5 linked regions of the Homo sapiens genome follow. The protein of the gene in region 1 interacts with the protein of each later gene in a biochemical or structural test. Each region holds a gene or a part of one and is shown on either strand. Other genes may lie near its edges. The genes, in order: TNP1, PRKACG, PRKACB, PPARG and PRKACA.

Region 1 (5,136 bases):
TACTTTTTGGATTTATTTTCTAGATTTCATGTGTTGCAAAGTGTGTTTATATTTTATACAGAGGCAGAGGAAGTCCCAGGAGGCATGAGAGCAGGGTGAGAGCCATGGCTGATGAGTTCTTTCAGAGATTTGAAGGAGGGAATCCAGATCAGATATGTGTGCAAACTTCTAAGAAGTTAGAGCTTCGTTCAGTGACACTACGGACACATATAGGATTATTTGAGACTAATCTGAGTTTGGTTAGAGAAGCAAAGACAAACAAAAGTCACATTTAGGAGGTAAAATATACACAACCATGGAGGATGAGGGTTATGAAGCATTTTCCCTATCCCTATCCTCCATTTAACAAAAAGGGAAACTGACAATGGAAAACTTTGAAGTATCTGTGTGCCTGATGGTAAGGAGAGATGTTTTTCACATGAACTTGAAAACAGCTCTGAATCAGCATGCTCATTCTTAGGGTTATGGAAGAGTGAGGACTTGAAATATTTTACCCCAACAAGTGAAATAACTTATCTGAAAAATGAACATGCTTTTTTTTATTGCATTTCTAGATTCTGACCCACAGGAACACCCCTTGCCACCCCTTATAGGACCAACATCCTGGTACCCACACATTTGCATGAGGCTCAGACTTAATAGTGTCCTCTTCCCATGTCTCACACCCCTGACTGCTGGAAACTTCGTGTCTAACCTCATGCCCCCTCATTCCTTCCTGCTTATACCCTTTCCTGGTTACTTCCCCAGAAACCACGTGGGTGGTTGGTTCTTGAGTTTAAATATGAGTCTCATTTCTACCCTGGAGCTACCTCTGAGGCAACAGGAAACAAGAAAAATACGATCCACCTCTGAGTGGGTGAATGTCATATCCTTGACCAGAGACATCATAAATTGTGTTACAACTCAGGGACAAGGTAAAGTGAGGGCTTAGGAATTTCCTAAATGAGCAGAACCAGCTCTATCCCTAAAGTCAGTTCTCTCTCTCTCTCTCTGTCAAATGATCAATACTCAGATTGAGACAATTCCTACTTCTAGGCACACTGGACTAAGGCTTATGGCATGCTACGAGGCAATATCCCACTCTTCAGTCTTGCCCACCTCAAGCCCAACATAGCTACCAAAATAACCTAAAGAAATCTAAACTCTCATCACTTCCACTGTTACCAATAGGATCCTTTACAAAGAACATGTTGGTCTCTGTTCAGAAGGTGTTCCCATCTCTTAGCCTGCTAATACTGCCCATATGATCAATGAATTAAGAGCTTCTAAGAGCTCCTCCAGGTGATCTCTATCTCCGGGCCAAGTCTTTAGATTTAGTTTAGCTTTCAACACCTCTATGCTATAAGCTCTGACGAAAACAGCTTGCATCCTTTGGTTTAAGCTCTAACAAAAACAGCTTGAATCCTTTGGTTAATGCTAATGAATGCATTTCTCCCTTTTTTATCTCTTCTCCCTTTCCATGTTGAGGAGAGAGACAGCACACTGGGATGAAGACAAATACGGCAATAGTGTGTGGCCAGAGTAGGACCACCTCCCACGGTGGTGGGAGGGAATTGGAGGACAAATTACTTTTGATATTTTCCAAGTCACATTTAATGGTTTCATACTGGCCAATTCTTCCCCAAACCCACCTAGCTCAGGAACTCAAGTCTTTCCAACCAAAAGATCAAAGTAAACATTTCTGCTTTCAAAGTTTTATTGAGATGTTGGGGAAAAACAGCCAACATATACATTCCTCATTTCGTCACAACTGGCATTTGATCCACATTCCATAGGCTCCTCTCTGGCTTTGATCTAACATCAGGTCTCCTTGGCAGTTCCCCTTCTGCTGTTCTTGTTGCTGCTTGGTGCTGTGTGAAGCGCACCAGGGCAGAGCCCGCTGGGGGCTCACAAGTGGGAGCGGTAATTGCGATTGGCTGTGGGAAAGGACAGGTTTGCAACAGAGACACGAATTAGAACATTCCCATCAAGACTCTTGTTGCTCAAATCTGCATTTAGTTATTGGAAATAATCTCAGGCCAAGATTTCAGGGTCCTGTGAGAGCTGCCTCCAAGAGGGAGGGCCTGGCAGCAATGTGTGCCTAAGTTTGGCAATCTCCTCCCCATCCCTCACTCACCGTCATCGCCCCGTTTCCTACTTTTCAGGTTGCCCTTACGGTATTTTCTTTTGCTGCCACCTCTCTTGACTCCCTTGTGAGGAGATCGGCTCTTGCTCCTCCTCATGCCATGACTCTTTAATTTGCGGCTGGTCGACATGGTAAGTTCTGCCAAAATGAGGGGCTTTGCAAGGCCCGGGGGCCAGGAGTCTGGGTATTTAAGGCCTTGGCCATTGTGACAGGGAAGGGGCATGGCTCAGCAGGTGGGCGGGGCTCTACTGTGCTGTCACTCACCTTTGCTGCACTTTGGTCACATTTGTGAAATAAGGTGGTCCTTTTCGTGCAGCTCAAGGGCTGCCCTCAGTTTTGAGGTCCTTTTTATGTTAAGTGAGGCTTTCCCAGAGAGGTGTTATTGAGAAACTGAATCCCAGCCCTGTGCCAGGCATTGGATGAGTACAAGAGACCATTCAGATATGCTTCTCCTGCCTGTAGGAAATGTAACAGTCATTGAGTGTGTGTGTATGCATGACTGTTTAAGTCTCTCACAGCATCCAGAGATAATAAATTTATTTCTGTAAGGACTTGACTCTACAGAACCCAATTCAATATGATCAAAATAGAAATATTCCTTCTTTTTCATCTAGGTCAGGATTTCTCAGTCTTGGCACTGTTGACACAATGGGCAGGGTAACTTTCAGTGGGCTGTCTTGTGCACCCTAGGATGTTTGGCAACATCCCTGGCCATTACCCACTGGACACCAGAGAAGCCTGGCAGCTATGACAACCCAAAATATTCCCAAACATTGCCACCTGTTTCTTTGGGAGGCTGGGGAAGTGAGGGAAAAAATGGCTCTGGTTCAGAACAATTAACCTAATCATTTTTTAAAATTCAGTCACAGATATTGATCACATAGCATATGCCATACATTTAGGTGGTAGAAAATTAGTGGAGGATAAACACACGTAGATACTGTGCTCATGGAACTCTCAGCCCACTGGGGAGAAAGCCATTCATCAGATGTCTACATAAATCAGTGAGTAAGTACTTACGGAGTCATTTTGGCTGGAGAAGGGCAGAGGGAAACTCCCTACATGGTACAGGATGAGGCTGGAGGGAGAGACAGAGATCAAACCATGATCAAGTACATTGGGAAGCCTTTAAAAATGTTAAGAGGATGGCATGTGAGATTAGAGGGTGCCAAGTGGGTGATGTATTGACTGGAGGAGCTGTGTAAAGGGAGATGCTACTGTCAACATCAATGGTTCAGCAGAGAGAAAGATTTGATGATGGTTTAGGTCTGGCCAGGAAAGGTGTTGATTGAGATCTAAAGTAGACAAGAGACCAAGGCTTGGTGACGGATTGAATTTGGGAGGTGAAAGCAGATGGTGTCAAGGGTGTGGCTTTTGTTTCTGTATAATGCAGTTATCTGGATGCTGGTGCCATTCATGGGGATAAAGGCCAGACATGGGGAGAGTGATGATCATGTACTTGGTATAAGACATACCAGCTTTGAAGTGCCTTTGACACTTACAAATAGATATATTGAATGATTATTGGTGTATAAGTCATCCAGCCTTTCCTTTTTCCTCCATTACACCTCATAGTAAATGCTTTGCTTTTGAAAATGTTTCTTTCTTTTTTTTTTTTTGAGACCGAGTCTTCTCTTTTGCTCAGGCTGGAGTGCAGTGGCACAATCTTGGTTCACTGCAACATCTGCCTCCTGTGTTCCAGCAATTCTCCTGCCTCAGCCTTCTGAGTAGCTGGGATTACAGGCGTGTGCCACCATGCCTAGCTAATTTTTGTATTTTTAGTACAGACAGCGTTTCGCCATGTTGGCCAGGCTAGTCTTGAACTCCTGATCTCAGGTGATCTGCCCACCTTGGCCTCCCAGAGTGCTGGGATTACAGACGTGAGCCACTGTGCCCGCCTCATTCGGATTTCTATAGAACTTGTTTGCTATTTCTTCCATTTGTCTCTCCTCTCTCCATTGTCATTACCCTCATTCAAGAACTGAGCATCTTGTATGCAGGAGATCCTTAGCAAAAGTTGGTTGAATAGAAGAGCGAAAGTAGTTCAAGTCCCACTCCCTGGTTTTCTGATATCTATAGATGGCAAATTGAGTTTTGAAACCCAGATTCCTTGTATAGCCACCATATGTGACACTTTCCATTTTCCTGCTTCTGGGCAGGTCTCTCTGGAGACCTTCTATTGGTGACTTGTTGGTGACTTTTATTCACATGAAGAAGTTCTATAAAACAGGCTGCTGGCTTGCTTGTTGGTAGTCCAGACCTTCTGCGTCCACTCAAGGCTGGTTGTTTCTCCTACAAACATGCCCCCATGAAAGCAGGGACCTCTGTGAAAGCAGGAATTGAGAAATTGGGCTCACTACTGAATATTCCCTGGGAGTTCATCAGTCCTGCCACAGAATAGAAGCTCAGTAAGTATTTGTGAAATACATTTGGTCAATGAATAAAAAGTCCTTCTTTTATTTTTCTAACTATCCTGTTCCTTCCCATTTTGCCCCACATCTCTAAGGAAGACTTCCCAACTTATCAAATTTTCACTGTCCTTTGAAACTTCTTCAAAGTTTATTGTCTGTATAATATTGGCTTTAAAGTCTAGACAACCAACCCTAATTGTGTGAAATCATGTTTTATGCCTGCATTGCCAGCCATGTGTGTTAGACTGGTTTCAACAGGAGGTGGTGTGTCTTCATTCTGGTCCTGACTGGACTTCTCTGGTCGTTAGCTCCCTTATTCTAAAAATAAGCAGATTGGGCTAGGTGATCTCTGAAATGATCTGACTTTGGCGATAGCCTCCTTCTCGTTAGGGACTGTACCTTTTATTTCTACTGCATTTTCCGCAGGTACTAGCATGGCCCACACTAGGTGGTCAGTAAATATTTGTTCAGTCTAGCTGCTTTGGTATATTATGAGGACAGACAGTTCAACACAATCACAGTGACTTTGCATAAGTGGGGCCATTTCAAGGCAGGGAAGAGAGAAGACATTGTCCTCACAACAGGTCCTCTGGTGCTCTG
Region 2 (6,047 bases), on another chromosome or scaffold:
TTTAACAAAACTTTATTGGTAATAGTTGGTTTTTTGTTTTGTTGTATTGAGACAGAGTCTCACTCTGTCACCCAGGCTGGAGTGCAGTGATGCGATCTCGGCTCACTGCAACCTCTGCCTCCCAGGTTCAAGCGATTCTCCTGCCTCAGTCTCCCAAGTAGCTGGGATTACAGGTGCATGCCACTACGCCCAGCTATTTTTGTATTTTTTAGTAGAGACGAGGTTTTGCAATGTTAGCCAGGCTGTTCTCAAACTCCTGACATCAAGTGATCCACTTGCCTTGGCCTCCCAAAGTGCTGGGATTACAGCACCCGGCCTTATTGGTAATAGTTTTGACATATGTTTACAACAGCACACTGTTCAAGAGGAAATCTCATCTTTTCACAGCAAGCAGGTTGAATCACCCTGAGCCCACCTGGGGACCCACCCCAGGCCTGAGAGCTCCTCCTGGGATGGGGAGAAGTGATGAGAGGGGGAAATATGAAGATGAATGAGGTGGCTTGCCAGCAGCTCCTCACTTTTCTATTAAGAAAGAAAACAGACCAGGGACGGTGGCTCACTCCTATAATCCCAGCACTTTGGGAGGCCAAGGCAGCTGGATCACCTGAGGTCAGGAGTTCAAGGCCAGCCTGGCCAATGTGGCAAAACCTCGTCTCTACTAAAAATACAATAATTAGCCGGGGATGGTAGTGGGCCCCTGTAATCCCAGCTACTCGGGAGGCTGAGGCAGGAGAGTCGCTTGAACCCGGGAGGCGGAGGTTGCAGTGAGCTGAGATTGTACCACTGCACTCCAGCCTGGGTGACAGAGTGAGACTTCATGTCAAAAAAAAAAAAAAATTGAAAACAGCACGGGGTGGCAGGGGAGAAGAGGTGAAGGATGGCTGACAGCTAAGCTGGAGAGGGGCACCCAGGATGGGAGAAGGCAGAAGCTGCTGGGTGAATAAAACAGGCAGCCCCTCCCCAGCAACCCTAGCCTTGAACCCTGGGCGATGAGGTGGGGGTGGAGGGGCTGGGCCTCTTCCATGTCCTTTTGCAGGACTGCCTTCCCATAAGGAGAGGCTGGGCATCACAATCTGGCTGAGAATAAAATTAAGGAGTTTCGGGGAAATGCTGCTGTGAAGAAAGACTTGGGCTTGGAACTCCCACTCTGTCTTTTTGGGGGACAACTCCTCTTTGGCAGGGAGTAGGGCAGCTGCTTTTCTGGCTCCCAAAGCCCAAGGGTGAAGAAAAGTCTGCTGGGGAAGAAGAGAGTGGAGCTTCCTAAAAGAACTGAGACCTTTGCAAGAGTGATAGAGGATGCCCCTGGGGAGGGGGGAGGGGGAAATCAGCAGTTCATGGGGGAAGTTCAAACCCCAGAGCCTCCTTCCAAAGTCAGTCGGCTTCCTGGATTTGTTAAAATGGAATGGGGAGACACGGTAAGGTGGGAAGGGTGGGAGGGGTGGAAGTAGAGGAAGGAGGAAAGGGGACACTGGTGGAACTTAAATAAGATTTTAATTGTTTTTTGTTTTAATTTTTTATTCTAGCAAACAGCCCACTGAACATGGCACTAAACCTCTCTCCTTCCCAGGCAGGATTACGCCAAAGGGTAGGTGTGCTTTTCATTCATCCTCTCTTAGTAAGTGGTGCCTGTTCAGGGCTGGAGTTAAGTTTGAGCCCCTCTTTCCACACCGTGTCCCTTGATACAACAGCAAGACCTGGCCTGAATAGAGCTGAGAAACTCGTTTAAAACAGGCAGAAGGGGGCTGGGGCAAGGGGGACCCTGTGGGAGGAGAAAGAGAGAAGCACAGAGGGACCAGGAAGGCATGGGGGGGGGTGAGGGAGCAGCTGGTGTTTCTGTTCCTCCAAATATCTGGGCTTCCTGCTCCCCCAACCCTGGAGGGTGGGGTGAGGATGAAATTAGATACAAGGAACTCTGGGGCCCTCTGGCTGTTCAATCCAACCCTCCCATCCCCCAAACCACCAAAAACAAAAAGGAAAGAAAACCCACAGGGGCACAAGCACACCCCTAAAACTCAGAAAACTCCTTGGCACACTTCTCATTGATGGAGATCCGGAGCTCTTCCTCCTCGTAGTCGTCAAAGTTACTGGCATCCCCAGGGCCTGTGTACTTCGGGATGAAGGGAGCTTCCACCTTCTTCTCATAGATGGCGATCCAGCTGGTTGTGGCGAACCACTTGTGGTTCTTGATGTCGCCAACCCCGTTCCTGAGGTTTCCGAAGCGCTTGGTGAGGTCCACCTGCAGCAGGCTCCGCAGCAGATGCTTGAGGTCAGAGCTGAGTTTGGAGGGAAACCGCACCCTCCCAGAGACGATCTTCTCGTAGATCTGGATGGGCTGGTCGGCGTAGAAGGGTGGGAAGCCCACGGCCATCTCATAGATGAGCACCCCTAGGGCCCACCAGTCCACGGCCTTGTTGTAGCCTTTGCTCAGGATGATCTCGGGGGCCAGGTACTCTGGGGTCCCGCACAAGGTCCAAGTGCGGCCCTTCACGCGCTTGGCGAAACCGAAGTCCGTCACCTGCAGGTAGCCCTGCTGGTCGATGAGGAGATTCTCGGGCTTCAGGTCGCGGTGGATGAGGTCGAGCGAGTGTAGGTACTGGACGGCCAGGACGACCTGGGCGGCATAGAAACAGGCATGGGGCTCGCTAAACCTTCCGACGCGCTGTAGGCGGGAGAACATCTCCCCACCCGGCACGTACTCCATCACCAGGTACAGGTAGGAGTTGTCCTTAAAGGAGAACTGGAGCTTGACGAGGAACGGAAAGTCGATCGCCTGCAGGATGCGCTTCTCGTTCAGTATGTGCTCGACCTGCTTCATCTTCACCACCTTCTGCTTGTTGAGGATCTTCATGGCGTAGTGGCCGCCGGTCTCCTGGTGCCTCACCAGCATCACCCGCCCGAAGGAGCCCATGCCCAGCGTCCTGAGCCGTTCGAACTGATCCGAGCTGGCGGTGTTTTGAGCGGGGTTTCCCCATCTGTAGAGGAAATCTCCTCTGGCTTTGGCTAGGAACTCGTTCACGCTCTCCTCCTGCTCGGTGTCCTTCTTGGCGGGGGCGTTGCCCATGGCGGTGGCGGCGGCAGGGGCGGGGGTCTCGCGGCGGCGGCGGCGGCGGCGGCAGCGGCGGAGATGGCGCCCCCTGGGGCTGGCTGCGCTGGCTGCGGCGCTGCGACCCCCGCCCGGCCTCCGCTTATATTCCCAGCTACATGGGAGGCTGAGATGGGAGGATTTCTTGAGCCTGGGAGGTCAAGGCTTCAGTGAGCCAAGATCACGCCGCTGCACTCAACAATATGGATAAATCCAAAAGGCATTATGCAAGTGAGAGAAGCCAACTCTAAAGGAGACTTACTGTATGAATCCATTTCTATGACATTCCAGAAAAGGCAAAACTATAGTGTGAGAGAACAGATCAGTGATTGCCAGGGCTTGGGGTTAGGGGACGGTTGGACTATGAAGGGACAGCCTGAGGGAATGTGGGAAGTGGTGGGACATGTTTGTATCCTGATTGTGCTGGTGGTTACAATGTATTGGGTGGTGGTCTACATTTGTTTTAAAACTCATAGAACTGGCCGGGCGCAGTGGCTAAAGCCTGTAATCCCAACACTTTGGGAGGCCGAGGCGGGCGGATCACAAGGTCAGGAGTTCGAAACCAGCCTGACCACCATAGTGAAACCCCGTCTCTACTAAAAATACAAAAAAATTAGCCAGGCGTGGTGGCGCATGCCTGTAATCCCAGCTACTCGGGAGGCTGAGGCAGGAGAATTGCTTGAACCTGGGAGGCAGAGGTTGCAGTGAGCAGAGATCGTGCCACTGCACACCAGCCTGGGCAATAAGAGTGAAACTCCATCTCAAAAACAAACAAACAAACAAACAAACACCTCAAAGAACTGTATACTTCCCCCCAAAATTCAGTTTTACTGCATGTAATGTTTTATTTTAACACATACATATGATTTCCTTTCTTCTGTTTGCTTTGGGTTTAATTGCTCTTATTTCCTAAGGTGGGAACTAAGGTCACTGATTTGAAATCTTTCTTCTATTACAATCACTTAGTGCTATAAATTTCCTCCTAAGTATTATTTTTTGCAGCATCCCACAAATTTTGGTATGTTGTATTTTCCTTTTCATCCAGCTCAAAATATTTTCTAAGCTCCCTTTTCATCTTCTTTGACAGATAAGCTATTTAAAAGTATATTATTTCGTTTCCAAATACTTGGGGATTTTTCAAGAATTTTCCTATTGATTTCTGATTTAATTCCATTGTTAGAAAACATACTCTGTGTGACCTAAAATGTTTTACACTTCTTGGGGCTCATTTTATGGCCCAGAATATGATCTATCTTGGTAGATGGCCCATATGCACTTGAGAAGAATGTATATTCTGGTGTATTCTGCTGTTTGAGGATACAGTGTTCTACAAATGTCACTTAGGTCAAGTTGGCTAGTAGTAGTGTTCAGGTCTTCTATATTCTTATTGACTTTCTGTTTACTTATTCTATCAATTATTAAAAACATGCCACAGGAGTTTATGAGAAGTCAAAGTACATAGATGATGGGCCTTCCATCACTCCCCCAGGCCACCATGTCAGCCGCCCCACACACCCTCCAGAAGACTGCCAGCACTCAGCCATCACAGGGTGGGTTCTGAGCTGCTCTCCCCAGTCAATTCTGTACAAAGATTCTGTCCTACATCATAAACACTGAGCTACAGGAATACCCATTTATCCTCCTATTTTCTCTCCATCTTGCCCTTTAAGTTTGACAGCTAATTCTGCCTACCCACCCTGGCTACACCGCCTGTAGCTAGTGCAAGTAAACAACACACTTTCACCTAGCCCTGCAGGCTGAAACCAAGCAAATTGGAGAGGAATCCCTGATTACTTGACTCCAAGTAGAAGGTTTCTATTGTGACTGTGAATTCTTGCCGCTCAGTTCAGCAGATGTTGGTCAAGCAGGTGTCTATTGTGTGCAAGGCCTGGTTCCGAGTTTACGGTTTAATCTGGGGCCAGTACTTGGGTACTGACTGTATATTCAGAGACGGTCAGGTTAGAGAGGAAGAAGAGGAAAGGAGAAAAATCTACTGTTGATCATCTGAACTTCCACAAAAGGGAAACCCACATTCCCTCAAGAACATAGCAGGGGGGTCAATTGCCCCTTGTGCTTTGGGTCAAGGCAAATCCCTGGCAGATGGAAATTCCACGTCTCCCCCATAATCTCAGTGATTTCCTCTTCATTTTCATCACAGTAGATCTGCTAAAATTCTGCCCATTTCTGACTTACCTCCAGATTATTCAGTAGAAATTTATACACAAAGAGCAATTAGTGGGAAGCCATTCTCTTGGACCGACGCCTTGGAAGTGGGACAGTTTGTTTAGAAGCAGGCTGTGCCATTCCATGACAAATTCTTGTGGCATTAATCTCTGAAGTTCAATTAGGAAGACACAGGGGTCTAGAGGGAACATATGCTGCACACTAGAAATGTCCCCATGCTTCGTTTACAGGTCAGAACATCAAGTATTTATCCCAGAACAAGCTGCAGAATAATTACATTTGTTATTTCTCTCCACTTTCCGTTCTGCTTTTCTCCATGGCCTTGGGGAGCAAGGGAGTCCTTAGCATGCCAAGGAAACAGGAATCCTTTTGCATTCAGATAAACCCTTTCAGAAGGAAAAGATTTGTGTAGCAAGATACAATACCTCTGCATGATCTGCTTGGAGCTTGCCTAGGGGGCCAAATGAAGAGGTGAAAGCCAACTCTGCTTTCCTGTATGCCCAATGAAAGGCAATCAAGACCATTCTTCTCCCAAAAAACTGCTCACTGGCAGTCATGCCAGCTGATTCTCCTCTTTACTGTTTATATAGCAGTTTCCAAATGGCTAATTGCATAAGGCTTGGATCATTCAATTCTAACTTCCTCTCTATCTCCAAAATATTGATGGGAGCAAAGAAAAGAACAAACTCCACCAGGATTCAAATAAGAAATAAACTACAAATCTCTATCACTCAGGGAATTATTTACATAACACTGCATGTTCTGGTCCAGAAATACTTAT
Region 3 (6,176 bases), on another chromosome or scaffold:
GCCTAATATCTCAATTTTCATAAGTAATCCAGGGATAATTAATAAAAATGAATAAATTAGGTGAATGTTAATTAAATAAACATTTATAAATCAATGTCTCATGTAATTTAAAGTCTTACAGTTATGTTATATTAAATTAAATAATAAGATACTTATTAGATGTCTGGGCCATAACAAATAAGTTTAAAAACTAAAACAAATTGCTAAATAAATATAAATCCCTTATTGGGTTCTTAAGTTCTATAAAAAGTTTAAGTATATTGAGGTCTAGTAGTCAAAATATGAATGTAAGAAAAAAATATGTTGTATGAAAAGTATATTAGGTGGTAAATATTTTTCCTAAAGTAAAATGATTGGCTGTTCCAAAAACGGAGGAAGAAGAAAAGAAAAATTATAAGATTAAGACTGGGGGTTTGGAAAAATGAAAGGATGGACCTTATGAAAAAAGTTTTATGTGTAAATAGTTAGGGAAAGAAATTGGAAAGGAAAATTGTTTACATATTTTTCTAAAAATTAATGATTGGTGTCAAGGGTGCACTGACAAAGGACCAGAATCTTGCTCTCTATATTTAAACAAAACTTTCTTGAAGTATTGATCTGCTCTCAATAATACTGCAAAAGGTTGTGATTTTTAATTATAAAATCTGTTTCTTTGACAGCCATCTTCCAAAGTGCAATTTCTATTTCTGCCACATTTCTTCCTGAGATCTAATTAATTTCCCTAGTTTTAGGTTTGAAATGCTGTCCTCTTCATTAAAAATAGTAATTCCATTTCTTGAGGTAAAGTTTTCCTTTTGAAATTTATATTTCAGAAGTTCGGCTTTTGCTGTGTCACACTACACATGATTTGAAGGTCATACATCCCCTTCTCTTTCTTGAAAGGTATATCTTTTTGCTTGGCTGGGTTGATAACTCCCTCCTTCAACCTTTTTCCTCAACTCCTAGAACTTTTTTTTTTTTTTCAGTTTGAACTTTGTTATGGCCTGATGCAGAAACGTTTATCTTAAAGGCCTAGAAAAACGAAGTTTTCTTTCAGTATAATTTGAATCTGTATTCTTGGCTCTTCTTGGTATGTCTGTATTATTTCATGTAACCAGGAAATTTCTCATGCTGTTACTGAGAGCCATGTATTTCCCTGCTCAAGATAGTCCTCTTCTTGTTCATATTTTTCTATAACACAGTGTACACTCAATAACCCTGGACACATTCTTCCTGTGTCTGATTAAATTCAAGTACTCAATCAACTTTCAGATGATTGGTAATTTTTTTAATGGAAAGCTCTAAATGGGAAAAAGAAATAATGAGCATACTGCAGAAGATTTTTCTTTACCATTTTGGTGATTTGTCTAAAAAACTAGATTTTATATTTTATCAAGATAATATCCTATGTTGTCTTTATCAGGTTTTTCATTACTCAGAAAAACTGAGCTTTAAAAATAATAAAAGTTTTCACATTCATATAACTTTCTGTATTACATCTGATGTCTTTTGATTATCACTCTGGTTAAATAAATGACTATTATTTTACAGTGACCTGTTACTCCGTTTTGACCAAGGGTTTTAAGTCTTTTAAGATGTTTAACAAACTTCCCAAAAATCAAATCCTAAATTAAATGTTCTTAATCTAGAATTAGCTTTGGGATTTTCCAGCTGGGCCCTTGGAAAACATTTGAAGACACAGATCTCATCTTGTAGACGTATTAAATAATTAGATTTATTTTTAAATTATATAAGAGATTGTATAAATGATGTGATACTAGATCTTTTAGTTGCATTTATGGCTATGTTGTTCATATGAATGTTTCAAAAATTATATAAATTCAGAGAAATTAACGTTATTCATAATTCTGGTTATTGTCTTAAAATGCTAGATAAAATAGAAATAACTAATTTTACTTGTTAATTGTAAACTTTCATCAGATTTTTACCCATGGCTATTCTAGATTTTTGTCATCCAGAGTTAATATTTTGAATTCTCAAAATTATTTACAATCAGATTCATAGAAAAGACCCCAACAAGTACCCTTAAATACAGGTTTTTAATAACTTTAAGATCAATAGACTAAATAAAAATTTCCAGAACCCTAATAAAAAAAGATGAGTATATGAAAATACTAATTAAGATCAAGCAGAACAAAAATTACATGAAATTAAATAATTGATAAAAATAATGTTTTCATAACTTTCATTTAAAACATTGTTACATTGTTAGTTCTTAAATATTTTGGTTTCCAGATTTAAAAAAACTTATCTCTTTAGCTATTTATAATTTATAGCAATTTGGTAAAGTATATTTTTGTAAAAAAAGATAAAAGCATTTGCTTTTTTTCTCCTTAATTCAAAAATTAGTTGTAAGTACTTTTATGGGAATATGACTATTTGCACAGGTCCAGTAAAAATCTGCTCTCTCTTTATAGCAGAATATGAAAACACTGATTATATTACTAAGGCTCTAACTGAACTATCGTATTTAAAAAGTGCATAAAATGCCTGACTTCAAGGGTTTCTCAGCATTACAATGAGTAAATAAAAACTGTTACTTCCTGGCAGGACCAGGAACCTCAAGACTGTAAGGAAAATCTAAGACTGCCTTGGTTCGGCTTCCTTGCCTCAAGAGGTTTTTAAATCCAAGATTCCTATGTAATCAATGTAGAGAAAAAAGTTTTTTCTAAAGAATAACTATAATATACCTGTTATTAGACTGTAAGTCTGTACATTATTTTTGAGTCTTGTTATCTACCTATAGACTAGACAAGGTCCTAAATTCTTCTAGGTTCCTCCAATCGAACTTTCTTCCATAAAATTACTAAAATGAGAACCGCTCTGTTCCTGAAGTCCTGTTAGCTGAAACTATATAAATTTTAAGAAACAAGTCTCATGCCTGATGTATGGGCCACACAGAAAGTTCATCAAACTGCCCAAAGCCATAGCCAGAGACATTTACACTGTAAACAAAGCCAAGAAAGTTGATGTTTTCCATGGTGTGAACAGCTTTTCTCAAAACACTAGAACAAGACTCCATATTGTAATGAAACTCTTACCCCTCTTAATGCCTGCTTTTTCACTTAACCAAATAATATTGTAATTTAAAATTCACAATCAGTAACTGCTATAGGTACTGGTGAGACCTGCTAAAGCCATTGACAAAGCCTGACTTAAGAAATTCTTTCAGTTCATCTAGTCACAACATCGACAATATCCTTAACACAATTTTTTGTTTAATTTGTGCTGGTGGTCCCTCTTGCAAAGTTTGGCATTCTCTGCTTTAGTTCAACCCAGTCATAAAATGTTAGTCAATGGCTATAGCAGGTCTCACCAGTTTCCCCTGGTCCTTTGATTTCTTTAGTTTTTTGCCCTTAGGCCTGGGCTTTAGTTCAAAAGCACTGCACAAATACATTTTACTATATTGTTAATTTTTTTGTACTATCATTTGTAAGCTTTGTTCTTAGTGCCTATCTAATCTTTGTAAAGGCAGCTGTCCCAACAGAATAACGTTAGCCCAACACTTAAAGATGACTGCTAATACCTATGGAAGTGATAAGTGGGAACTCGATGCTGGCTGGACTCCAGACAAAAATCTACTTTGAGAAAAATTTTCCTTCTGGCCTCCTCGTTACTTGAATGTGGCCCAGGTCCCTACATAGACACCCCCCAACAGATAACTTCTCTCATATGTGGGACAGAGACAACCAGAACAAGTCCATCCGAGCACCAAGGAATAATTAAGCCTAACTTCAAGATGGTTGACAAGCAATGCTTTCAGAGAAAGATCTTGATCAAAAGGGAAAAATGTGAAAGCTGATTATACAAATTAGTCATTCTCATCATACCTAACTAAATCAGAGTCGAGGGGCCAGGGAATAACGCACTCAGGGCACACAGCACCTGCTCCAAGAATTAAGGCCAGGTGTGGTAGCTCACACCTGTAATCCCAGCACTTTGGGAGGCCAAGGAGGGTGGATCACTTGAGATCAGGAGTTCGAGACCAGCCTGGCCAACACGGTGAAAACCTGTGTCTACCAAAAATAGAAAAATTAGCCGGATGTGGTGGCGGACACCTCTAGTCCCAGCTACTCGGGTGGCTGAGGCAAGAGAATCACTGGAACCCAGGAGGCAGAGGTTGCAGTAAGTCGAAATGGTGCCGCTGTACTCCAGCCTGGGCAACAGAGGGAGACTCAGTCTCAAAAAAAAAACCAAAAACAAACAAAAAAATTATATTTTCCACAAGTCTAGTTGCTGAAACTGCCTATTGTAACCTGAAACCAGTTTTCTCTAACAGCTACTGAGACAACCTACTGCGACTCTTAGACGAGTCTGACCCACCACCATCACTCACCAATCAGAGCTTGCCAGCTCCCCAAAACTTAACTAGTGCTAGTAAACTTTGTTTCAAAACAAATAAACATAAAATTTCTTTTTATAAAACCTCCAACCTTTTCTTTGTTTTCTAGACACATTGAAGACCACCTAGTCTGTGTATATGCCTCAAACTGCAATTCTTGCTTCCTCAATAAAATGTTGAATTTAGAGATTTGTCTCTACATTTTTATTTTGACTTCAACACACTATACTGAATGAAGCTGTACCTGTTTTTTATTTTAGCTTTATTCTATTAGTGATTATTAATGAACGGTAGAAGCTTATAAACTATTAAGTACAGGTAAAACCATCAGATTCTATAACCTATTTTAATAACTCTGAGATCTTATTAGTCATAACCTGATGAGGTACAAACTCCCGTTAAATTATGTGTATATTTTAAAAACTAAACTTAGCAAGAACTTTAAGGAGAATTAAATTTGTGAAAAACAAACTTTTATAATCTTATTACCATAATACTATTATTATTATTTCTCTATATATTTATTTTCCATCTTCATCCTTAAAACAATCCTCTGTCCTGGAGTTGTATTATTAATCTTTGTTTAATAAATATTGATATTTTAAAATTCAATTAATTTTTCCATTTTCTGAAAACTCTTCAAGTAGTGGACCCTCACAATATCTAGCAGTAGTATAACATTTAAATTGGCTTCAAAGTCCTTTTTTTATATTAAATTTTTATATTCTTTATATTAAAACTTGTGTATGATGTGGCCTCTTTGTTTCCACCTAATGCTTCATATGGCCAAAATATTAATCAAACAAAATAAGTTTTTGGCATTGGCATCAACTTAAAAATCTGGTTAAACAACACAAGCATATAAAGATTTGAAGAAAGCAAAACCATTAGTTACCTGAACCTTCCAATTCTTCTTAGATGTGAAAACATTTCACCCCCAGGGACATATTCCATAACCATGTATAAATTAGAATTATCCTATGAACAAATAAAAAGGAAATACAATTATTCAACTTAGGTCAAAATTATTTTAATATTATATAATGCTGAATTAGAAAAATTTAAAATCTCTCTGACAGATTAATAACCTTGAGAAATAAAGAATAAATGGAACATGCTCTAGCTTTTCTATACAGAGACACTCATATTTTTCCCCTCCTAGTTATTTTTGCCACAAACTAGTCTGGGACTTTTGCTCTTCCTTTTCTTGCAGAGAACATCTAGTTCTCAAACAATTAAATACTCAGGCAATGAAGTAACGTTATAATATATGCAAAAGAATAACAAAGGTAAAAAACAATTTAAAAAGTTAATAAGAATATTTACATTTTATGTATAAAAGATTAATGGTTTTAATATTTTAAATACATAGGTCTTCATTTAATTTAAAGAATAAAGGAGAAAAAAGATTAAAATGTTTCATATGATTCAATATTGCAGAGAGATGCCAGTATCATTCCAAAGAGCTCAAAAGTGACCAATTTAAATAATAAATGTGGTACAATTTTTCAGACATTTGAATAGTGGAACAAAAATTTTGCTTTGTATAAGTGAAAAGACTAGAACTCAAATTACTAAGTAAAAGAAGATGAGATAGTGGCAAAAAGGGCTTAATCAAAGTAGAAAATGTGTTGGGTGTATGAATTTGCATAAGAATTGTTATTAAGATATCCCTATGGTTTTTGATAAATTGAAATATTTCTTTTTGTAATACCATCTCATGAGTATCACCTTTGAACAATTTCCCCAGGGAGAATCAAAACCTTTTCAAACGTTACCTAAGTTATAAGCACAATAGGATTTAATTACACAAACTCTAGAGGTATTCGTTTTG
Region 4 (6,176 bases), on another chromosome or scaffold:
AAAATTTGAGAATGATACGGCTCCTATAATGGCAATCTTTGGATGATACTGTCCAAGCTGATGGAAAGTGTAAGGACTCCACTTTGCTTTGTAAAAAATACAAAAAAACAGCCATGGAAGTGCAGTACATTTTGTATGGAACATTGTACCACATTGTACCAAATGTCATGTTAAATTAATGATTCAAGATAAAATGCAGACCAAATTTGACCAGGGTTTTAAGAGGTTCTCTCTCCATAAAGCAGGCTGGCCACGATCTTCTCACTAGGTTTGAGGGTAAGGAGGTCCCCTGTGAAATATGAAAGTGAACTCTCTGCTATCTAAGAATTGGTGAATTGGTTGCAAAGAAAGGCAGACCAGGCCCACCCAGGGATCACTCTTGCAGTTTGACAGATCTACCTGGAGGCTGAAAGAATCTATGCAGCCTTCGGAAATGCAGTGAAAACAGTATAATCAGATATGACTAGGGAAAAAATAAAACAACTGGTGTTCATTTGCATGTCAACACCCAGAATTCTCTGCTAGTTCACCTCTTCTTCAGAATGCAGAAAGGATTGAAAAAGCTGGAATGGGGCCGGGCATGGTGGCTCATGCCTGTAATCCCATCACTTTGTGAGGCAGAGGTGGGTGGATCACCTGAGGCCAGGAGTTCAAGACCAGCCTGGCCAACATGGTGAAACCCCGTCTATACTAAAAAATAAAAAAATTTAAAAAAAATTGCCGGGCGTGGTGGTGGGTGCCTGTAATCCCAGCTACTCTGGAGGCTGAGGAGAATCACTTGAACCCAGGAGGTGGAGGTTGCAGTGAGCCTAGATTGCGCCATTGCACTCCAGCCTGGGCAACAGGAGCAAAACTCCATCTCAAAAAAAAAAAAAAAAAAAAATGAAATGGTTTGGCATGATGGTGGGGTGCTGATTCCTCTCTCTGTCCTTGAGTATTTACTGCCAGGAAATCCTGACCAACATCAATTGCCAAGGGGTTAAAGTCACATTGTTGTTAAATTGGGAGAGAAAATTAGCAGGATTTTGTGCCCTATGTTCAACTATTACAGAGTTTCAAAAACAGGAACCTGGAGCTTTATATGAGGGGACAGGGGAAGTAAAGGGGAAGAGTGACAAGGGTGATTTATCAGGGCATAGTTCCAGATAAATCACTTACATGGAGGTGAAAGAATTTCATGCATATGTTCTGTGCCAAGAAGCCAAATGGTTGAGCAGAAGCTCTGAAAGTTGAAGTGGGCAGTTCTGGGTACAGTCTTTCCACATGTGAAAAGGTGATGATTTTATATTCATGTTATTTGTACTCCTGCATGTGCAGTTGGTCTTTTCAGGTGTCCAGATCATCATTTTCTCATGACATGAAAGAAAGCCAATAAAGGCTAGTTGTGGTGGCTCACACCTGTAATCCTAGCACGCACTTAGGGAGGCCAAAGCAGGACGATCACTTGAGCCCAGGAGTTCAAGACCAGCCCAGGCAACATACATAGCAAGACCTCATCTCAAAAAATGAAATAATTTTTTTTTAGAAAAAGAAAGTAAATATTTCATTAATATAAATTATAATACACTGTAAAATGCCTGGAGGACAAGAAACACGTTTTCTCTAGGTTCTGTGAAAGCATCATTATCCATTCACATTTTTCTCATAATTAGAACCTGACGTTCTGGAAAAATACAGTAAATTTTCATCGATGTTACTTGCTCTGCCCCCCTTGTATTCCTCCCATTAATAATATTAATCCTGAAAAGAAAAAAAGAAAAAGGAAAGAAACCACCCAAGCAAAATGTTTAAGAAATACGGTAAGGACAGTTTGGTCCCAATTTCCTTAAAAATTAGAGCCACCAAGTAAACCTGTTTGGGGGTCCTCACATCTGTCCTCTTTTGGAGTTTGCTAAGTAGTACAGTTGAAGTGAATTTTTTGGTAACAAAAGTAAAAACTTCCAGAATAACTCCAGTAAAGGGTGTTGATGTGACGTACAAGTTTGGAAATATATTTAATATCTGAGACTCCTCAATGTTGGTGTTATTTCCTCCAGTTTAGAACAAACTTAATCTTTTGATGAAAATCATAGAGTTCCATAGATATGAATAGAATCTCCAACCAGTGCATCTTGAAGCCGGCTGCCACGGCCACTCATGCACCTTCTCTCCTTTCAGGAGAGAATTGTCAGCATCTCTGCTCAAAACAATCTTTACTTTTAGTCCATCAGAGACTTCATGTTTGTCGTGCATGCACACTCACACCTCTCCACACATATGCCCACTCCCCACACACATCCTGCTTCTGAGAAATGCAACTAGAATTTCCTCCGGAGAAGAGATGGAAACCCCTGATTGAGAAATTTAAGGCCTAGGAAAGGTAAATGACTTTTCTTAAGTCACATGGCTCACCACAGAACCAAAGCTGGAACACACATACCCTCAGCTCTTCTTCCAGTGCTTTCAGGTATACAAGTATTTGAACAGGATTCAAGGTTTAACTCCTTATGTGTCATTCAGTGTATCCAGTGTAAGTAAAATGTTACCCCTTAGTCAGAACAGCCTTGAGAATTTCTCAATGACTACAAACCTTGCTTAGTTCTATACAAGGGAAGTAAAAGAGAGAGAATGTCATGACCAAATGACTTAACTTTTGAAGGCAGCCTATTGCAAACTTGAATAATTGGGGCATGTATTTTATTGATTGTTTGACCTATAAGGACAGATATTTTAAAATATAAATTCAAAATTGCTTTTTTGCAGCATTCACCTGTAGGCCTTCTATATCTGCTCTTTGTGAAATAGATGGCTTCCAGAGCATTAAAAAAAGAAATAGACATTTTCTTGGTTCAAGAGCTGTAATCTGCTTTCCGAGTGATTTTTCATAGTTAAGCATATTTTATGTGCACATAGTTTCATTTGAGATCTGAGAGGATTTCATCTAAAACGGAAAAGTTATTACCTGTGAAGGAGAACAAAGGAAAAGGAAAAAGAAATTTTAAGAAAAAAAAATTTTTTTAAACCTGTAGTTACTTTATGTTCAAGTGGGTATTTTCAACGCTGAGTTGCTGAAATGGTTTTTTATTGAAAGAAGGTTAAAAGTGTATTTCATTGAAAGCCAAGATAAACAGTAGATTTTGTATCATTTTAAAAATCAACAATCGGCCGGGTGTGGTGGCTCATGCCTGTAATCCCAGCCCTTTGGGAGGCCAAGGCAGGCAGATCACTTGAGGCCAGGAGTTCAAGACCAGCCTGGCCAACATGGTGAAACCCCATCTCTACTAAAAATACAAAAATCAGCTGGGTGTGGCAGTGCATGCCAGTAATCCCAGCTACCCAGGAGGCTGAGGCACAAGAATTGCTTGAACCTGGGAGGTGGAGGTTGCAGTGAGCCCTGATTGTGCCACTGTAATTCAGTCTGGGCGCAGAGTGAGACTCTGTCTCAAAAACAAACAAACAAATAATATAAAAATCAACAATGAAGACTCCCCAAACAAAAGAAATCAGGATTCTTAGCCAGTCATAGGTAAAGTGTTACAGTGTAAATTGAAGGGAAAGAAGACCAAAATTGGTGAAATATGTTTGGTCCCAGAAGATAATTAAGATGAATAAAAGAACTTGAGAGTATTTTCTCATTATTAAGCATCTTCAGCTTTAAAGATTTTAGTTAGCAAAGCAAGTTTACATAAACAGTTTTCTGAACCTGGGATGGCATTCACTGTGAGTTAGAAATCTCCAAGTCATCCACGTTTTCCCTGTTTTATTTGCAGCCATTCGTTATCTATGACATGAATTCCTTAATGATGGGAGAAGATAAAATCAAGTTCAAACACATCACCCCCCTGCAGGAGCAGAGCAAAGAGGTGGCCATCCGCATCTTTCAGGGCTGCCAGTTTCGCTCCGTGGAGGCTGTGCAGGAGATCACAGAGTATGCCAAAAGCATTCCTGGTTTTGTAAATCTTGACTTGAACGACCAAGTAACTCTCCTCAAATATGGAGTCCACGAGATCATTTACACAATGCTGGCCTCCTTGATGAATAAAGATGGGGTTCTCATATCCGAGGGCCAAGGCTTCATGACAAGGGAGTTTCTAAAGAGCCTGCGAAAGCCTTTTGGTGACTTTATGGAGCCCAAGTTTGAGTTTGCTGTGAAGTTCAATGCACTGGAATTAGATGACAGCGACTTGGCAATATTTATTGCTGTCATTATTCTCAGTGGAGGTAAGATTTGTCTTTTGATCTTCTATGAAAGAGGGTGGGATGATGGTGGGGTGGCCAAAAGAATTTTGGATTTCCTTAGTGTTAGTCTGCATTGTCACTTTAAGTGCCAGTGGCATGATGCCATGAATCATCACTACACGTGCAAAACACTGTACCAAGAAAGAGTGTCATAGGTTTGCGGTGTGAAGGTTATAAGTAACCCAGGATCTTCTCTTTCATCCCTCAACAATATATTTTTTCCAGTCAAATGCCCTCTTCTCCTTTTTCTTTTTCTTTTCTTTTCTTTGTCTCTTTCTTTTCCTTCCAGAAAGGAAGATTAGAGGCCAGTCTAATCTTTGGTTCCTGTAAGTAATGGCATGTATAACTTTGCTTAAGACAATGCTCACTTGATGTAGAGAAGGGACCACTAAGTATTTCTGGTCAAATCATGCTCCTGCCCCACCATCAGTAAGATACTACTTTGAATTGCTTTTGTGATATCAGGAATTAAGGAATACCTACTGACCTCCACCCACTCTCTTGTGTGGATTCCTCTGATGGCTTCCCTTAAAGTACCTTTGTGAGGTAGTTGGTTGTGATTAAGAATGCAATGTGAACCGAACACACAACATAGAAATAAATTTAGTTATTTAGCAATTTGTTGTATTTTTGGCCCTGCAAGTAGTACATGATCTGACTAACCAATTCCAAAAGCCAGATTTTCTTCTGAGTGTGACTTTTTTCTTTTTTTTTTCTTTTTTTTTTTTCCTTTTTTTTTTTTTTTTTTTTTTTGTGAGACAGGGCCTCACTCTGTCACCCAGACTGAAGTGCAGTTGCACAGTCATAGCTCACTGCAGCTTCTAACTGCAGTTAGTAAGCTATGATCATGCTACTTCATAAAAGTAATACGTGGCCATTTTACAGTTGGGCTCAAGTGATTCTCCCACCTCAGCCTCCCAAGTAGACAGGACAACAGCTGCACACCAACATGCCCTGCTAATTTTAAAAATTTTTTTGTAGAGATGAGGTCTCATTATGTTGCCCAGGCTGATCTCAGATTCCTGACCTCAAGCAATCTTCTCACCTTGGTCTCCCAAAGCGCTGGGATTATAGGCATAAGCCACCACGCACAATCTAAACATTACTTTCATTAGCCTCTCATGAGTAGAAGAAAGTTTTACTTTCATCTCTCTGTATAAAAATTGTTTTTAAGTGGCAAGTTTTCCTATTGAAGTGGACTTTAGGTGAGCTTTTTGTATGTACTCTACAGTGTATCCTCTGTGAAAAACCCGTCGGGGGATAGTGGTAAACTGTATATAACTGCACAATGTATTATAAAGAGCACGATCCCTTTGTCATCTTTTGTTGTCCAGTTGAAAGGAGAATGTTTCTGAAATCAGGTGCATAGTGCAGTAGTCATAAGAATAGCAAACATTTATTTAATACTTGCTGTGTGCCAGGCAGTGTTCTAAGCACTTCATGCATATTTATTCAATCCTCACAACAATTCAGGGAAGTAAGGACCATTTTACAAATGAGGAAACCAAAGCACTGAGAGGTTTTCTCATTTGCGCAAGGTTACGTGGCTAGCAAAAGATGGAGACAGGATTGTGAGCCAGGCATGCTGGCTCAGACTCTACACTCTCTACCATCACATCATGCGGAATACCGGCCTTTAAATGCCTAGGGTGCAAATAGATCACAGTATGGCATAGTTTACCTTTGGAGCTGTGAAGTCCAGGGTCAAGTCGTGATTCACTTTAAAATAACTACTTGATATTGTGGGTTTTTGTTGTTGTTGTTGTTTGTTTTTTGTTTTTTTGTTTTTGAGGCGAAGTCTCACTCTTGTTGCCCAGGCTGGAGTGCAATGGCACAATCTCGGCTCACTGCAATCTCCACCTCCCGGGTTCAAGGGATTCTCCTGTCTCAGCCTCCCGAGTAGCTGGGATTACAGGCACATGCCACCACACTCGGCTAATTTTTGTATTTTTAGTAGA
Region 5 (6,176 bases), on another chromosome or scaffold:
GGGGAGAGGTGATGGACAGCTGACAGCTAAGCTGGAGGAGGGGCGCCCAGGATGGGGGAGGCGGAAGCTGGTGGGTGAGTAAAACAGGCAGCCCCTCCCCAGCAGCTCTAGCCTTGAACCCCGGGCCGTGGCTTGGGGGGACTTGGCCTCTTCTGTTCCCTTTTGCAGGGATGCCCTCCCCACTCAGCTGAGGGAAGGCTGGACGTTAAAATCTAGCGGAGAATAAAATTAAGGAGTTGGGGGGAAACGCTGCTGGGAGGAAAGACTTGGGCTTGGGGCTCCCCCTCTGTCTTTTTGGGGGATGACTCCTCTTTGGCAGGGAGAGGGGCAGCTGCTTTGTCTGGCTTTCAAAGCCCAAGGGTGAAGACAGGTCTGTTGGGGAAAAAGAGAGCGGAGGCTTCCTAAAGGGGCCTAGACCCTCGCAGGATTGGCAGAGAGGATTCCCCGGGGAGGGGCCCAGGGGAGATTAGCAGCGGGGAGGTTCAAACCCCAGCGCCTCCCTTTCCAAAGTCAGTCTGCTTCTCTTTAAAATGGATTTGAGGAATGGGGGGACATGGGAGGGGTGGGAGTAGAGGAAGGAGGGAGGGAGGCACTGGTGGAACTTAAATAAGATTTTAAATTGTTGTTTTTTTAAAAAAATTCTAGCAAGCAACCCACTGAACATGTCACTAAAAATCTCTCCTTCCCAGGCAGGATTACTCCGAAAGGAAGGTTGGCGCTTCGTTCATTTGCCCTTAGCAAGTGGGGCCTGTGGTTGGGTGGGATGGGGGTGTGGGTGGGGGCTGGAGTTAAGCGTGAGCCCCTCTTTCCATACCCTGTCCCTGGATACACCAGCAAGACCTGGTCTGACTGGAGTTGAGAAACTCGTTTAAAACAGGCAGAAGTGGGCTGGGAGGGCTGAGGGGCTGGGGGGCTGTGGGGAAAGAGGAAGGGAAAAGTGGGAGAGGGGGCAGGAGGGTGAAGGGGATGAGGGGGAGCAGCTGGTGTTTCTGTCCCTCTGATTATCTGGGCTTCCTGCTCCCCCTAACCCTGGAGGGTGGGGTGGGGGTGAAATTAGATGCAAGGAACTCTGGGGCCCTCTGGCTGTTCAATCCAACCCTCCCACCCCCCCGACCAAAAAAAAGAAAAAAGAAAAAAGAAAACCCATGGGGGCACAGGCATGCCCCTAAAACTCAGAAAACTCCTTGCCACACTTCTCATTGATGGAGACCCGGATTTCTTCTTCCTCATAGTCGTCAAAGTTACTCGTATCCCCAGGGCCTTTAAACTTTGGTATGAAGGGAGCTTCCACCTGGAGAGGGATCAAGAATCACCCAGACCTCAGCATTCAACATAATCATTATTACAACAATAAATGCGAATGGCCTAACATTCAAGAGATATTTACTCTGACTCAGGCCTGTGCTTACCATTAGGTTATGGATTCCTCTTAACAGCCCGAAACTCTTAATGTAGCAACTCATCAAAGGGGAAATTACTTCCCAGAGAGAGGCATCTGTTGCACAAGGTCATGGAATGGCCAAATGACCCCAGAATCCCATTTCTAGACCCCACTGCTCTAAGCTCTCTACTCTAGGTTGCTCCTGAACCTGTGTTCTCTTCTCTATTTCTCTATTGGCTGTCCTCCCTGACTCTTGGCCTGCTCCCAAACCCTCAGCAGGCTTAAGGAGGGGAGGCCCACCTTCCTCTGGTAGATGGCAATCCAGTCAGTTGTGGCAAACCACTTGTGGTTCTTGATATCGTTGACCCCATTCTTGAGGTTCCCAAAGCGCTTGGTGAGATCTACCTGCAGGAGGTTCCGCAGCAGGTCCTTCAAGTCAGAGCTGAAGTGGGAAGGGAAGCGCACCTGGAGGAAGGGGTACAAGGACAGGGTGGGAAGCTGGTCTGGAACTTGGGAAGCCCATGATGCTTCTTTCTCCATCCAACGGTCCTACTGGGTGTGGGCCTCCAAAGCAGAGTGCCTGCCAGCATCTTGTAAAACAGCTCCTTGAGCCTACCCTACAGTTTCCAATTTAGGAAGTCTGATACTGTGGCCTGAGAATCTGCATTTCTTTAAAAACTTTAAAAATTCAAGAGTTAGTTATTTTAAGAAGTTTTTGTAGAGACAGGGTCTCACTACGTTGCCCAGGCTGGTCTTGAACTTCTAGGCTCAAGCGATCCTCCTGCTTTGGCCTCCCAAAGTGCTAGGATTATAGGCGTGAGCCACCACACCCAGCAAGAATCTGCATTTCTTTTTTTGAAAAAAAAAAAAAAAAAAAAAAAAAAATAGCCTCACTCTGTAGCCCAGGCTGGAGTGCAGTGGTGCGATCTGGGCTCACTGCAACCTCCGCCTCCTGGGTTCAAGGAATTCTCCTGTCTCAGCCTCCTGAGTAGCTGGGATTACAGGCTCACGCCAAGACACCTGGCTAATTTTTGTATTTTTAGTAGAGACGGGGTTTCACCATATTGGTCAGGCTGGTCTTGAACTCTTGACCTTAGGTGATCCACCTGCCTTGGCCTCCCAAAGTGTTGGGATTACAGGTGTGAGCCACCGTGCCTGGCCCAAGAATCTGCATTTCTAACAAATTCCCCAGCAATGGTGCTGCTGGAAAGGGGTCCCTTTTAAGAACCATTGCTCTAAGGCAAGTGCTATGATGATTTCCATTTCAGAGAAGGGGAAACTGAGGCTTGGGTTAAACAGCTCTTCCTAGGTCACATTGAGGTGTGTGATGGGGCAATTCCATCTCAGGTCTACTGGACTCTAGAACTTGCATTCTCAGCTGCTGCTGCTGCTGCTTAAGGCATCTCTGCTGGGGTCTGGAGACTTCTGAAATATTCTTGCTTATGACAAACTTTTTCTCTCCTCTCTTTCTGCATAGCTAAGGCTCTTCCGTTCTTTAAAGCCCAGCTCAACTCTTCTTGAAAGTTTTCCCCAAACCCTCTGAGCCCACGCCTTGTATGCAAGTCATCACTGGAGTTATAGTTGCAAGAAACGACTTCTTGTTCCTGCTGTGCCTCTTACACGCTGTGTGACCTTGGCCATGGCCCTTAACCTCTCTGGGCCTGCGCATGCCTCTCAGATGTGGGGCAGATATGCCAGGGCTGCACGAGGGAGATAATACCACTGACGGTGCGGGGGAACTAGAAAATGCTACAAAGAAGGGAGTCATGTGCATCTTCTCCTGTGGGATCTTCTGTGTTTTTTTCTTTCTTTTTTTTCCCACTCTGGGACATTTTTTTTTCTTTTTTTCTTTTTTTTTTTTGAGATGGAGTCTTGCTCTGTTGCCCAGGCTGGAGTGCAGTGGCACAATCTCAGCTCACTGCAACCTCTGCCTCCCGGTTTCAAGTGATTCTCCTGCCTCAGACTCCTGAGTAGCTGGGATTACAGGTGTGTGCCACCATATCCGGCTAATTTTTGTATTTTTAGTAGAGACGGGGTTTCACCATGTTGGTCAGGCTGGTCTTAAACTCCTGACCTCGTGATCCGCCCGCCTCGGCCTCCCAAAGTGCTGGGATTACAGGCGTGAGCCACCACACCCGGCCAACTCTGGGCCATTTTCTTGGCAGTTTCTTTTGGTCCGGTGGCAGATGCCTCATCTTTCCCTTTTTTTGAGACAGAGTCTTGCTCTGTCACCCAGGCTGAAGTGCAGTGGCGCAATCTCGGCTCACTACAACCTCTGTCTCCCGGGTTCAAGCAGTTCTCTGCCTCAGCCTCCCGAGTAGCTGGGATTACAGGCACCCGCCACCACGCCCAGCTAATTTTTGTATTTTTAGTAGAGACAGGGTTTCACCATGTTAGCCAGGCTGGTCTTGAACTCCTGACCTCGTGATCCACCTGCCTTGGCCTCCCAAAATGCTGGGATTATAGGTGTGAGCCACCGCGCCTGGCCTTCATCTTTCTCTTTTAGTGATGCTATGTGTCCAGCTGGGGCACCCCACTTGCCTGAATTTTTTTAAAAGACAGGGTCTGGCTCTGTGACCCAGGCTAGACTGCAGTGATGCAATCACAGCTCACAGCTCACTTCTGGGCTCAAGCGATCCTCCTGCCTCACCCTCCCGATGAGCTGGGAACACAGGGGTGCACCATCACGCCCAGCTAATTTTTAGTTTTTTTTTTTTTTTTTTTTTTTTGAGACAGAGTCCTGCCCTGTTGCCCAGGCTGGAGTACAATGGTGTGATCTTGGCTCACTGCAACCTCCGCCTCCTGGGTTCAAGTGATTCTCCTGCCTCAGCCTCCCAAGTAGCTGGGATTACAGGCGCCCACCACTATACCCAGCTAATTTTTTTTGTGTGTGTTTTTAGTAGAGACGGAGTTTCACCATGTTAGTCAGGCTGGTCTCGAACTCCCGACCTCAGGTGATCTGCCCGCCTTGGCTTCCCACAGTGCTGGGATTACAGGTGTAAGCCACCGCGCCCGGCCAGTTTGTTTTTTTTTTTTTTTTTTTAGAGATGGGGTCTGGCTATGTTGCCCAGGCTGGTCTGGAACTCCTGGCCTCAAGCCTCCACTTCCCAAGGTGCTGGCATTACAGGTGTGAGCCATTGTACCCAGCCCCAAAGTTTCAAAGCCAGTCGGTGGCAGAGCTGGGACTGGGGCCCAGGCTGAGCCTGAGGGTGCTCCCACCACAGTGTCATGACTCCGGGCCAACCAAAAGCTCCTGTGTAGGAGATGCTGGACCAAGTCGGGGGATGGTCGGGTCTTCCCAGCAAGGTGGTTGAGCTGAGGGCAGAGGTGGGGTCCCCAACCTCTCTCCGGCCATCAGTGCCTACAATGATTGCCTACGGTGATTACCTACTCACCAAAGTGTGATCTTGGCCAAGACACATCCCTTTTCCCAGCCTGTTTCCTCACCTCTCCTACAGAGGGTGCCACTATCTCAGGGTGTGACTGATGGGGATTCTGGGGCCTGGTGGATGGTGGGCACTTTGCACCTGTCATAGATGTGAGCTGAGATGGCTTCACCACCCCTCATCTGAACCCTCAGAGTTAGGCAAGTCTGGGTTTGGGAGAGGAAGCATGGGCTATAAATGCTAAGTGAGGGCAATCCTGGGTGAGGCTATGGACAGCACCTGGGAACAGGAACCAAATACATTCGTTTTTCTGCCTTGGAATTTGCGAAAACTCACACTAACTGGGATGAGGAGCGAAAAGGAGGGTCGTCTGGCAGGGCGGTTTGTGTTCTGTGGCCAAGATGTTCCCGTGAGGCTCGGGATTTTGGAAGCCCATGGGATTCTGGAACCGCGGGGTTGGGGCTGGACAGCAAGGGGGCTTGAGGTGTTGGCCTCAGTGTGGCCGGCGCGTCCAGCTTCACCACCTGGCCTGACTTAAGGAACTTCTAGATTATTCTGACAACAAGCAGGGCTCCCCAGGGAATAGGATGGGTGAGCAGGGAACGGTCTGTTTCTTCCAGGGCTGTGTCCCCACATCCGGACCTCACCTTCCCAGAGACGATCTTCTCATAGATCTGGATGGGCTGGTCTGCGAAGAAGGGCGGGTAGCCAGCGGCCATTTCATAGATAAGAACCCCCAGGGCCCACCAGTCCACGGCCTTGTTGTAGCCCTGGAGCAAGATGGGGGGGCACAGGGTGAGGAGGAGGCGAGAGCAGGAGAGCAGAGCCGGCCTCAGGGGAAGGGGAGGGCTGGGGAGGCTCCTACTTTGCTCAGGATAATCTCAGGGGCCAGGTACTCAGGGGTGCCGCACAAGGTCCAAGTGCGGCCCTTCACGCGCTTGGCGAAACCGAAGTCTGTCACCTGTGGGCACAAGAACAGGCAGTTGGCAGGGAGGAAGGGTCCAGGCCACGGCTTCCCCAGGGCTGCCCCTCGCCCGGCCTGGTGGGCACCTGAATGTAGCCCTGCTGGTCAATGAGCAGATTCTCCGGCTTCAGGTCCCTGTAGATGAGATCCAGCGAGTGCAGATACTCAAAGGTCAGGACGATCTGGGCCGCGTAGAAACGGGCATGGGGCTCACTGATGGGGACAAATGGGGAGGTGAACGTCAGTGGTCATGCCCCAAAATGGTCCAGCAGGTGGCCCTGCAGAGCCTACCCCAGAGGAAGACACCTCCAGTCCAGCCGTCAGAAACGCAAGGCACCTGATTCTTAGATAGCCCGACATGGGAAACAGCCTGTGGGTCCATCCACAGGAAAATGGAATCACAGACTGAGCTATAGTCATACAATGGAATTCCACTCACCACCAC

What was found.
Region 2: of the proteins of TNP1 (region 1) and PRKACG, one has a biochemical effect on the other in vitro, tested with the Homo sapiens proteins (one study listed by BioGRID).
Region 3: of the proteins of TNP1 (region 1) and PRKACB, one has a biochemical effect on the other in vitro, tested with the Homo sapiens proteins (one study listed by BioGRID).
Region 4: the proteins of TNP1 (region 1) and PPARG form a complex in vitro, tested with the Homo sapiens proteins (one study listed by BioGRID).
Region 5: of the proteins of TNP1 (region 1) and PRKACA, one has a biochemical effect on the other in vitro, tested with the Homo sapiens proteins (one study listed by BioGRID).

The regions. Positions count from the first base shown.
Region 1 is NC_000002.12:216,857,780-216,862,915, forward strand, and holds TNP1 (spermatid nuclear transition protein 1), read right to left. Parts: upstream 2,286-5,136; 5' UTR 2,256-2,285; coding exon 2,117-2,255; intron 1,917-2,116; coding exon 1,888-1,916; 3' UTR 1,679-1,887; downstream 1-1,678. UniProt on the Homo sapiens protein: Plays a key role in the replacement of histones to protamine in the elongating spermatids of mammals.
Region 2 is NC_000009.12:69,011,032-69,017,078, forward strand, and holds PRKACG (cAMP-dependent protein kinase catalytic subunit gamma), read right to left. Parts: upstream 3,083-6,047; 5' UTR 3,062-3,082; coding exon 2,006-3,061; 3' UTR 1,473-2,005; downstream 1-1,472. UniProt on the Homo sapiens protein: Phosphorylates a large number of substrates in the cytoplasm and the nucleus.
Region 3 is NC_000001.11:84,184,244-84,190,419, reverse strand, and holds part of PRKACB (cAMP-dependent protein kinase catalytic subunit beta), read right to left. Parts: intron 5,321-6,176; coding exon 5,238-5,320; intron 1-5,237. UniProt on the Homo sapiens protein: Mediates cAMP-dependent signaling triggered by receptor binding to GPCRs.
Region 4 is NC_000003.12:12,412,955-12,419,130, forward strand, and holds part of PPARG (peroxisome proliferator-activated receptor gamma), read left to right. Parts: intron 1-3,749; coding exon 3,750-4,200; intron 4,201-6,176. UniProt on the Homo sapiens protein: Nuclear receptor that binds peroxisome proliferators such as hypolipidemic drugs and fatty acids.
Region 5 is NC_000019.10:14,091,947-14,098,122, forward strand, and holds part of PRKACA (cAMP-dependent protein kinase catalytic subunit alpha), read right to left. Parts: intron 5,945-6,176; coding exon 5,818-5,944; intron 5,729-5,817; coding exon 5,633-5,728; intron 5,538-5,632; coding exon 5,415-5,537; intron 1,847-5,414; coding exon 1,682-1,846; intron 1,292-1,681; coding exon 1,166-1,291; 3' UTR 1-1,165.